Regions from separate parts of the Homo sapiens genome. Here region 2 is linked to region 1. Evidence: fine-mapped expression QTL. A gene starts in region 1. The other region holds a variant in brackets. All regions are shown on one strand. Distances are between the middles of the regions.

Region 1 (5,367 bases):
AAATGCTGCCCACTGACATCAGGCTGAGGCCGGGGCCACATCAGCCATGCTCAGGGCTCTGCAGAGTCCGAAGCCCTAAGTATCCGGCCTTGGGGTCTCCTTCCAGCCACAGCCGGCGACGCGCAGAGATGCACGGAGATGCAGGGACAGCAGGCAGTCCCGTGGGGACCTGGGCTGGGTGATACCCCAGGATCCTCCTGGCAGCTCCTCACAGAGTCTGCTCACTGGGCCTGCGCTGGGGCTGGGGTGGGCGGACCGGTGCCCCCCGTGTTCCCCGGGCAGTCACGTTCACCTGGGACCTGAGCGCATGACCTTATTTGGAAAAAGCGTCTTTGCAGATGTGACAAGTGATCTGAGAAGAGATCATCCTGGATTAGGGTGGGCCCTAAACCCGGTGACAGGTGCATTTTTAGAGGAGAAGATGACACAGAGAAGGCCACCTGCAGACAGAGACAGAGACGGGCGTGGCGCTCTCAGGACCACCTGGAGCCCCGGGAGCCACTGGGGGCAGGAAGGACCCTCCTCAGAGCCCCAGGGGGAGCACAGCCTGTGTGGACTTTGGGTTCCTGGCCTCCGGAGCTGGTGGGAATAAACTATTTTTTTTTATTATTATACTTTAAGTTCTAGGGTACATGTGCACAACATGCAGGTTTGTTACATATGTATACATGTGCCATGTTGGTGTGCTGCACCCATTAACTCATCATTTACATTAGGTTTATCTCCTAATGCTATCCCTCCCCCCTCCCCCCACCCCATGGCAGGCCCCGGGGTGTGATGTTCCCTGCCCTGTGTCCAAGCGTTCTCATTGTTCAATTTCCACCTATGAGTGAGAACATGCAGTGTTTGGCTGGGAATAAACTATTTTTTAAGCCCTTTGGTGTGTGGTCATTTCTTACAGCAGCCCCCACGGAGGCAAACAGGTGTCACATATGCCCCCGAATTTGGGAGATGACAGAGGCCTGAGGAGGGCCCAGAGAGATGACCTTGGGGTTGAGGCAGAGTTAGAGCTTAACAGACACACTAACTCTAAGGTCAGCGTGGCGGGTGGGAGCGGAGGCGCAGCCGGTGATCCGCCATGGGGCTGCGAGGGGACACAGGGGCCTCAGTGAGAACCAGCCCCGGGACAGGCCTATGCTGACAGACACTACAGCATTTGGGGATGACAAATTGCTGGCTTTTTTTGTTTTGTTTTGTTTTTTAATAAAGGGGCAACTTCATCTGTGAAGGCAGATAAACCGGGCCCAGCATGGTCAGGCCGGGAGCAGGCCATGGGATCTCCCCCAGGTCCAGGCAAGGCTTGTTTTACGTCTGGAGAGATCTGGCGGTACCAGCACCCCTTCCCCAAGGCCACAGGGATCTCAGGATTGAGCCCCCAAAGCTGGGCTCTGGGTCCTCCCGCCACGTCCTCTGCCGAGGCGCGGTCCCCACAGGGCTCCTCTGTGGAATCGGAGGTCTCGCCCTCTCAGCGAATGGATGCCTCAGCCCCAGGCTCCTTGGGACGAAGGCGGGCAGCTGCTGTGAAGAATCCCGCTGGGTGGCAGGGTGCTAACACCCGCTGTGCACACTGAGCACCAGCTGTGTACCAGGCACCGTCCCAGGCCTCACAGTAGGGGAAGAAGGCCCAGGGGGGTCAGTCATTTGCTCGAGGCCACACAGCCCGCCGGTGGCAATGAGGATGCAGCCCCCGCAGTCTGGCCCCAGAGCCAAGCGTCTGCGTCACAGCTGCCTTCTGACACCTACTGAAAGAGCCGTGCACGCTCGTGTGGCACTCACGTGCAGCCGCTGTTGACCTTGGACACTGCCGGGAGGCTGTTTGAGGCCGTATTTGGAGGCCTCGGACAGCAGAGATTCCACAGCATTCATGCCTGGGGCCTGCTCCCTGGGTGCCCGCGGCCACACCCGGGGGTTTATTTACAATGCCAACACCTATCCACGAGCTGGCAGGCCAGGCTGGTTTGGGACCTGCTGCGTCAGAAAGGGAGTGTGCGTGGAAGGAGAGACATTCATATTGTAAGAGCAATGCTCCACGCCTCCCCAAGGGGCAGAGAGCCACCCACGGCCACCCACGAGCCACAGGCTTTCTACTGAAGCGAGCTGTCACAAGGATGACGTCCCAGGAGCATGTGTAACACAAGAACTCGAATGCCAGGAGTCAGCGGAAAAGCCGGAGGAGCAAGAGCCCCGGGGCGGGACTGACGAGGAGGCGCAAGGGCTCCACCGGCCGCCGGCCGCCGAAACAGAAAGCAACCTCAGAGGCCCGGAGGAGGACAGGCCAGGCTCAGAGCCACGCAGACTCCCCAGGCAGCCTGTGGGTGTGTTTCCCTCGCATTGTTTTTCTTAGTGCAGGAACACAGAGCCAAGAACTACCCTGAGGACTGCCTGGAGGTCAAGGTCCACCCACACACACAAACACGTGCACACGCACACACATAAATAGCAGAAACTTGACCTCATTTCCGGGCTGGGCCAGAACATGAAGGGAAGGAGCCTCAACAGGGCCAAGGAACAGCCTGACGCAGGCGGGAGAGTGCTCAGAGGTTCCGCCTAGCTGCACGTGCTGGCACGGGGAGGGGGGCCGAGCGGGGGTGGGGGGTGTGGGGCGGGGCAGGGTGGGGGAGGCGGGGGCAGGGGGAGTGGGTCGGATTCGGCAGCACTTCTGCAAAGGATCTGATGGGGTCCCTGGGATGCTCAATGGTGGGCAAGCCCACGTAAACCATTGCGAACCAAGACGCTGGCTGCCGTGAAACACCCGCTCAACGCCCGGGCACTGGGCTTGCCTCATACAGGCAGTTTGTTCAGCCCTGGCCTCAGGACCAGACGCTGGGGCCAAAGCAGGTAAGGGGGAAGGGGGAGGATCCCGTCTGCATAGCTTTGAGAGGAAGCCAGATTGCTAAGTTTCGTGACCAGCAATGGCCACAGAGAAACAGAAGGACTTCCTTCTTGAAAATGAAAGCCACAACTGAGAAAGAACAGGTAGTTGTAGGTGTCCAAACAGCTCCAAGCTGAAGGCTGTTTTACCTGAATTAAAAGCTCTGACATAAATATGTAAAGCTCAGCCGAAAGTTACCTATTATGCACATTTAAATCAGCAAATTTAAAATCCTCTTTTAAATATCAGCCATGTGGCTTCCGACAGATGCCCATCAGACGGCCGCAGACGATGAGAATTACATGGCACCACTCAGCTCACCAGCTGTGCACCTCCAGGGGCTTCCGTTGGGGCCTCGTTCTGACGTCTTTCTGAGATCCAGCAGCGACCTGGCTTCGGGCCAGCCTCCCTTATCTGAATCTCACGCAAGCAGCATGTGTGTGACAGTACCCATTCCATCTTCATCATGCCCAAGAGTTTCAGCTCCGGGTTCTCTTCTGAAGCTGGAAATCTTCTCTGGGAGGCCGTTTCCCCATTAAAACAGCGGTGTCTAGATTGGAAAGGGGAGGGTGGGCCTTCCATGACTCAGGGCTAAAGGACAACAGGAGCAAACATAAAAGCTGGCTATGATGGGGCGTCTGGCCTGGCTCCTGCCATCCAGGGGACAGATGGGTTGTGGAGTGACGCTGGGCAGGCAACACTCTGGACTCTCAGGGCGATGAGGAGGGTCCCACATTCATGCATTTCCCAAAGGAAGTTTCCAGGATTGTACCAAGACCTCACATGGATACGTCCTAAGCACTGGCATTTACTGAGCGTGCCGTTCTGAGCTGGTGAGCCAGAGGGATGAGAACTCTGCCTGGAGAAGTGGGTGCCCAGCATGTATGTCAAGGCTTGGCCCGGACCTGAGGGAGTCCTTGCTGAACGTGCGGTGCAGGACTTACATTTCAGGGCTAACGTTTGCCACGAAAACCAGCCCAACGTGGGACATGAAAGCATCTTAGCCGCAGCAGCCGAGTCCAGCAATGTGGACAGCCAGACGCATGCTTGGTGGAGGCAGCCAGCGCCCCCATCCTGGTCTCGGTCATCAGTTCCATCAATGACAAATGCTGCTGGGGCCCATGAGGACCACCCGCGCCACTCACATGTTGCTTTCCTTCTGCGATCTGCTAGCTTCCGAGATGGCCAAGGCAGATGCACTCATGGCTCAGTGAGAAGGTGAACGTCACCTCTGCGTTCACTGCTAATGGAGACTGGAGTAATGATGTCTGGTCCGCGTTAAGGCGGGCAGCTCGGCAGCCCACACCTTTGGTTTTCTGGTCTCAGGCCCATTATGGATAAGCTGGTGTGGGGTGGGGCAGGGGAGTTTCAGGGGCTGGAAGGGCCTCATGGCAGCCCCACGTAGAGGCTGCCTAGCCCCTGGACTGGCCCCACCAAGGGGAACAGGACATTGCAGCTGGGCTTGGGGAAGAAGGGAGGCCTGTCCTTTTGATTCTTCTTTCTGGCATCCTGTGTGTGCACGTCTGTGTAGGTGTGTGTACACATGCACACCTGCCTATAGTTTCTTTCCACTTGGAATTGGTTTTGACAAAAAGGTGCGTCAGCTTCCCAAGCTGGTCCCTGTAACAGTGAAGGATGGAGCCTCATCCTCATCCCAGAGCCACACCCTCAGCTTCCCCTGGAAAAGGCAGCGGCTTCTTCCGATCCACACCCTCAGCTTCCCCCGGAAAAGGCAGCAGCTTCTTCTGATGCATGGATACAGCCCCCACTACGGAGCTGGGGAGGGAGCTGCAGGCAGCCTTGACCCCAGACCAAATTCAAAGGACCTGCCTCTTCCAAAGGCCTCCCTCCAAGGGCCACGGGGACCCCATGACCGTCCTCTCATCCCAAGCTGGCTGCATGGGGTGGGCTGGTTTATACGCAGATAAGACTGCACCTGCTGATGAGGCCAGATGCAGGTGAACCCCGGTGCTGCAAATGAGGAGTCTGCAGATGGGGTGAGGCTGAAAGGCAGTTGTGGAAGGCCGGGCAGTGGCAGCCACGTGGCAGAGGAGGGGGTGGGAGACCCGGGGCAGGGATGGGACAGCCATGGGGTGCAGGAGACTGCACCCCCTGTGAAGGACAGGCCAGCGGCCAGCCCCCAGGCCACCCTGGCTCCTGTCAGCATCCCAGGTCGAGTCCACTGTCATCCTCATCTGAACACCCTGACTGCATCTAACACCAGGGCATCTGCTTCCTGGCCTCTGCAGGGCCCACTCTACAGCCTCTGACGCTATGTGCGATGGTCTCAGGGTCAGGGCCAAGAGCACTGTGATAGCGAATTTCATGTGTCAACCTGAGTGGGCCTTGGGTGCCTAGACATTTAGCCAAGCATCGTTCTGGGTGTGCTGTGGGTGTTTCCAGGTGAGATTAGCATGTGAAGGGTGGCCCTCCCCAGGGTGGTGGGCCTCGTCCAATCAGTTGGGGGCCTACATAGATCCAAAGGCTGAGTGAGA
Region 2 (5,367 bases), 34 kb after region 1:
TAAAAATTTAGTGTCTGATTGAGATGGTCTATAAGTGTAAAACAAACACTAGATTTTAAAGACTTAGTAGAAAAAAGGGAGAGTAAAATCACTCTTTAATAATTCTTTAGGCCAGGCATGGTGGGTCATGCCTGTGATTCCAGCACTCTGGGAGGCCAAGGCAGGTGGATCACCTGAGGTCAGGAGTTCGAAACCAGCCTGGCCAACATGGCGAAACCCCATCTCTACTAAAAATACAAAAATTAGCTGGGCATGGGGTGGCACACGCCTGCAATCCCAGCTACTCGGGAGGCTGAGGCAGGAGAATCACTTGAACCCGGGAGGCAGAGGTTGCAGTGAGCCGAGATTGCGCCACTGTGCCCCAGCGTGGGTGACAGAGCGAGACTCCATCCCTCAAAATAATAATTCTTTGTATTGATTATCCAAGTGATAATATTATGGCTCTATTGGATTTAAATAAAAATAGTATTGGCTGGGTGCCGTGGCTCATGCCTGTAATCCCAGCACTTTGGGAGGCCGAGGCGGGCGGATCACCTGAGGTTGGGAATTCGAGACCAGCCTGACCAGCATGGAGAAACCCTGTCTCTACTAAAAATACAAAATTAGCTGGGCGTGGTGGCGCATACCTGTAATCCCAGCTACTTGGGAGGCTGAGGCAGGAGAATAGCTTGAACCTGGGAGCTAAAGTTTGCAGTGAACCGAGATTGTGCCATTACACTGCAGCTGGGGCAACAAGAGCGAAACTCCGTATCAAAAAATAAATAAATAAATAAAAAAGTATTAAAATTAATCTCATTTGTTTATTTTCCCTTTTGTCAGTATGGCTGCCAGCACAGGTAAACTTACATGCGTGGCTTTGCTACATTTTTACTGGACTCTGCTCTTCTAGATGCTCAGAACTCTTCGAAGCCTGCAGGTTTGAACACACCACCTAGCAGAAGCTCGGAAAGGGCGGCTTGCAGCCACACAGCTCCGCAGCTCCATTATCTGGTGCCCAGCAGGGGAGGGGGTGTGGCGTGTGAGTGGGCATGAGCGTGCACAGGTTTGTCGGCGTGTGTGTCTCTGTTTGGGGGGACTGTGTGTGGGTGTCCATGTCACTCTTCTGAGGCAGGGACAGTCTGGGCCGTGGTTCCTAGGATGGGACCAGAGGCCTCTCATCTCGCGCCGAAGAAACCCTGCAGATGAACAATCTGGTCTGGCATTTCAGAGACAGAGTGGCCCATCCCCCGACTGGCCCAGCATTTTGGGGATAGAGTGGGCTGTCTCCACTGACCCCCCGCTTTGTGGAAGGAAGCTCTGCTCACCAGCCAGGGGGCAAGAGGAGACGCTGCTCCCCGTGCAGAACCGGGGGCTGCTTTAGGTTCTTGGGTAGTGGGGCCCAGCCTGGAAGCTTCCTCTTTCTCTGGCCCCACAGTCAGCCCACACAGGATGGAGCCTTCAGGGAGGTCCCTGGTGGTCCTCCAGCCCTGGTGAGTCAGGAGCGTTGGGCGGGAAGGTCGGTCTGTGTGGCTGACCTGACACCTCCACCTGGGTGCATTTACCCGGGGGAGAGAATTCCTCCCCTCAGAGCCCCGGGGAGGGGCTGGGCTCTGGGGTTGCTGGCTGCTCCTGGCCTTAGCTGCCCGTGTCAAATGCCACATCCTGGGACCTCGTGATCTCAAAATTACTCAGACCTGGGACCCCCTTGTACAGGAAACGGCAGGTCATGTGGGGTCACCGGGGTTTCACAGTGAACTGTCATGGGGAACCAGAGTGGAAATATTTGCAAAGCCATCATTCTTTTCTTAGACAAAATCTCCCATCTTCTGCATGGGTGGGGCAGTTTTCCAAGGCATGACCTACGGATGTGGAGGGGGTTGGGGTTGTGACCTTTGGCTGGGGGCAGGTGGGGGTCAGGTGTGAGGCCAGACCTAGGCCTGGCCTCGAGTCTCTGCCCTATGCCATCTGTAAAATGGGCCCACGGATCCCTCCAGCCTCCTGGTCTCTGGGGGAGAAACAGACGAACCCTGTGGGGC[T/C]CTCAGGGCTGGCCGTGCAGGAGACAGGTCCTAGTGGGGCACAAACAGGAAGCCTGCCTGGGGTAGTGTCGGCTGAGGAGCCGCCACCCCTTCCTCCTCGTGTCTCACAGTGGGCCTGGCAGGCCGATTCGGGGCCTTCCCGGAGCTGCAGAGCCCTGGCATTGCTGAGTCACATCCGAGAACAGGAGGGTGGAGAACTCCCAGGCGGGGACAAGTGTCCTCAGGGTCTGCTGTCCCGCTGTGTGCCCGGAATGGCCTGACCCACCCACCTCCGGCTTCTCTCCCGGTTGTCACGTGAGACTGTGAGACCCCAAGGAGGCGCCAATGGCTTTTATTTCATCAAAATCTCGTGGATTTCAAGAAAGCAGAAGACCTGGGCCACTGTGGGTGTCACCCCTCCGGGTGCCCAAATTGGCTTTTCCTGGAGCCCCTTCCAGCGCCTCAGCTGGGCTCTGGAGTGACACGCAGAGTCACAGGTGCCCCAGGCTCACATCTTCATTGCTCAGTGATGTCTTGGCCCCAGGCAAGGCTGGGCCCCTAGGTGGCCTTGGGGCAGGGGACCCCACTGACCTCACTGACCACTGCCTCCTGGGATCATCCCAGTATGTGCTGGTGACTTCTGCATATGCTGCGGGCATTTTTCTATGCATAGACATATTATATTTTTGAAAATATAAGAAGGAATAAAAGGAAACACTCACCCAGATCCAGATCTCTGTAACTGCTGCATAAGCTGCCCCAGGCACTGTGGGGGCCCACCTGGTTCCTGCTGCCCATGAGGGAAGGAGGTCACCTGCAGGCCCACCTGGCCATTTGTCAGTCTTGGGGGCAGAAAGCCAACACCCTCGGGGTCTCATGAGAGCAGGGAGGGCCTCTAGCAAAGCCGCAGCTGACCACGGCCACACTTGTGTCCCTCGGGGCTGGCTGGGATCCGCAGCCACTGCGTTGCCCCATGGGAGGGAAAGACTCTTGCGGGCCCCGCTCCAGGGACGATGTCTCCATAACTCGGTGTAACTGGGAACCATTGAATCAGAGCACTTCTTTTTAAACGGTTTTCAGTCATGCTTGAGGGAAGGAGCCTGTTCTTCCACCGGTAGGTACAGCTGCCAAAGCTGACATCTCAGGGTCTTTTTTTAAAAAGTCTTTCTCGTAACTCTAATCAGTTCTGCATGCAGGAAGTCCAATTGGGCCTCACGTCACCACCAAATGCGTGGGGTTCCGGGAGGCACAGAGGCCCCAACAGCCCAATCCCTGCGTGGGGTCCACTCCTCTCCCTGCGGGTGTGGACCTGTGAAGTCCCCGGGGCCTTCCCACTGGCCTCCCAGGCAGTGCCTCTCCTGGCCATGAGAGGGCAGCCTCGCCCCTGCTGAGCCCAGGCACCCAGCGACCCCAGCTGGAATCTGCTGCTGTGTGGATGTCCGTCGGCCCCTGCTGGGAGCCCTCCTGGGACTCCTCGGAAACCAGCATCTCTGAGGAGGAACAGGAAGGTCTCTGATGAGCTATAGTCCCCACGGCCCTTGATGGGCACCCTGAGCAGGGTGGAGCAGCGGGGTGGATAGATTTGGGATCCCAGAACACTAAGGTGCAGGGAAGCTCAACTTCAGCATCTACCTGCAAGCTCCAGGTGCAGAGGTCAGAGGAGGCCCCCAGCACACGGGTAGGGGAGGCCCAGGTGCCTCTAATCAGTTCTGCATGCAGGAAGTCCAACTGGGCCTCACATCGCCACCAAATGCATGGGGATTACAGACGTGTGCCACCACGCCCTGCTAATTTTTGTATTTTTAGTAGAGACAGAGTTTTGCCATGTTGGCCAAGCTGGTCTCAAACTCCTGACCTCGGGTGATCTGCCTGCCTCAGCCTCCCAAAGTGCTGGGATTACAGGCTTCAGCCACCACCGCGCCTGGCCGGAAATACATTTTCTTTCCTTTTAAAAAACCAACACAAGTTCATTATAGAAGTTTAGAAAATAAGAATAAGTCAAGAGGCTGGAATAAAAGTTGCTTCTAATCCCACAGACCCTGAAAGATGGGGGCACTGGTTACCCAGGTGAATGAACAGCCTTACCACCATTTGAAACCATGACAGCATGTTTAGATTCTACTCATCACTTTGCCCCCTACCCACCAAAGGCCAGGACCCCTAACCCAGGAGGGCAGGAGAAGGGGGACTCCCTGACCAACTGGAATCTTGGGGGTAAGGGGCAAATGAAAGCATTGTTCATGCCTTTCAGAATGGGGACCCCTCCTCACTCTTACCCACCACGATCCCCAAGAGATCCAAGCCCAGCCCCAGGCAACGTGCCGGGTCGGCTGGTCGGTCTCTACTCTGCAGCCCCCATGATGTGACAGCGACCTGAGCCCGCACAGTGCTCAACATGTGATCGAGTGAAAGATCATAAAACACGCACCACGTTGGCTCATTTGACAGACATGTGCAGCATGAACATTATAAACACACTGGCGTGATGCAGATTCATGGCCTACACAGACAACAACATGCAGGAACATGTACACAGACAACAACACACAGAAACAACATGTACACAGACAACAACATGCAGAAACATGTACACAGACAACAACACACAGAAACAACATGTACACAGACAACGACACACCAAAACATGTACATGGACAACAACACACAGAAACACGTACATGCAACCGCTACCACCACCCACCATCTGAACTTTCATCATCCCAAACGGAGGCTCTGTCCCCATGAAACAGCAACTCCCTGCCACTCCTACCCCCACTCTACTTTCTGTCTCTACGCGTGTGGCCACTCTAGGAACCTCGTACGAGTGGAGGCACGCAGGACCTGTCTTTCTGTGTCTGCTTATTTCACTCAGCACAGTGTCCTCCGGGGCCGTGCAGTTCGTAGCCGGTGTTAGCAGTCCCTTCTTTTTTAAGGCTGAGTAATATTCCGTTGTGTGAATAGACCACATTTTGTTCATCCACCGAGGGGCGCTTGGTGGCTTCTACCTTTGGGCTACTGTGACTAAGGCTACTGGGAACACAGGTGTACAAGTGCAGAGCCAGCTTTCAGGTCTTCGGCCACATACCCGGTTTCCAGAAGCGGCACTGCTGAATCCCAAGGTGATTCTACTTTTGATTTTTGAGGACGTGCCACGCCGTTTGCCAGTTTGGCCTGTTCTGTGCTTCCGCTGGGCAGAGTCACTCAGTTCGCGTCGTGCGTGCCAGGCTGTCTCACGAGACGTTAGGTTGCGAGATGCATCCAGGTTGTTGAGCACAGCTGAGGCTGCTCCTTCACGGGGCCATAGTGCATGGCAGATCCCACAGTGTATTTACTCACACGAAATGGTTGGCAGGCGTCTGGGCTGCTTTCAGCT

Evidence for each region.
Region 2: its variant is fine-mapped to the expression of SLCO4A1-AS2 in whole blood (TOPMed, PIP above 0.99).

Annotation. Positions count from the first base shown.
Region 1 is chr20:62,649,281-62,654,647 of GRCh38, reverse strand. It overlaps SLCO4A1-AS2 (SLCO4A1 antisense RNA 2), which reads left to right and starts at 2,462. Exons shown (of 2, transcript NR_183965.1): 1 at 2,462-2,838; 2 at 3,140-5,367. The region is part of intron 1 of SLCO4A1 (solute carrier organic anion transporter family member 4A1); the gene reads right to left. RefSeq lists enhancers at 1,981-2,170, 2,951-3,040, 3,051-3,350 and silencers at 2,351-2,480, 2,591-2,770.
Region 2 is chr20:62,615,025-62,620,391 of GRCh38, reverse strand. No RefSeq gene overlaps it. Among named protein-coding and RNA genes, the nearest start is that of LINC02970, 14 kb to the right of the region's middle. RefSeq lists enhancers at 1,721-1,770, 3,438-3,587. The variant T/C (reference allele first, on the strand shown) is at 2,016.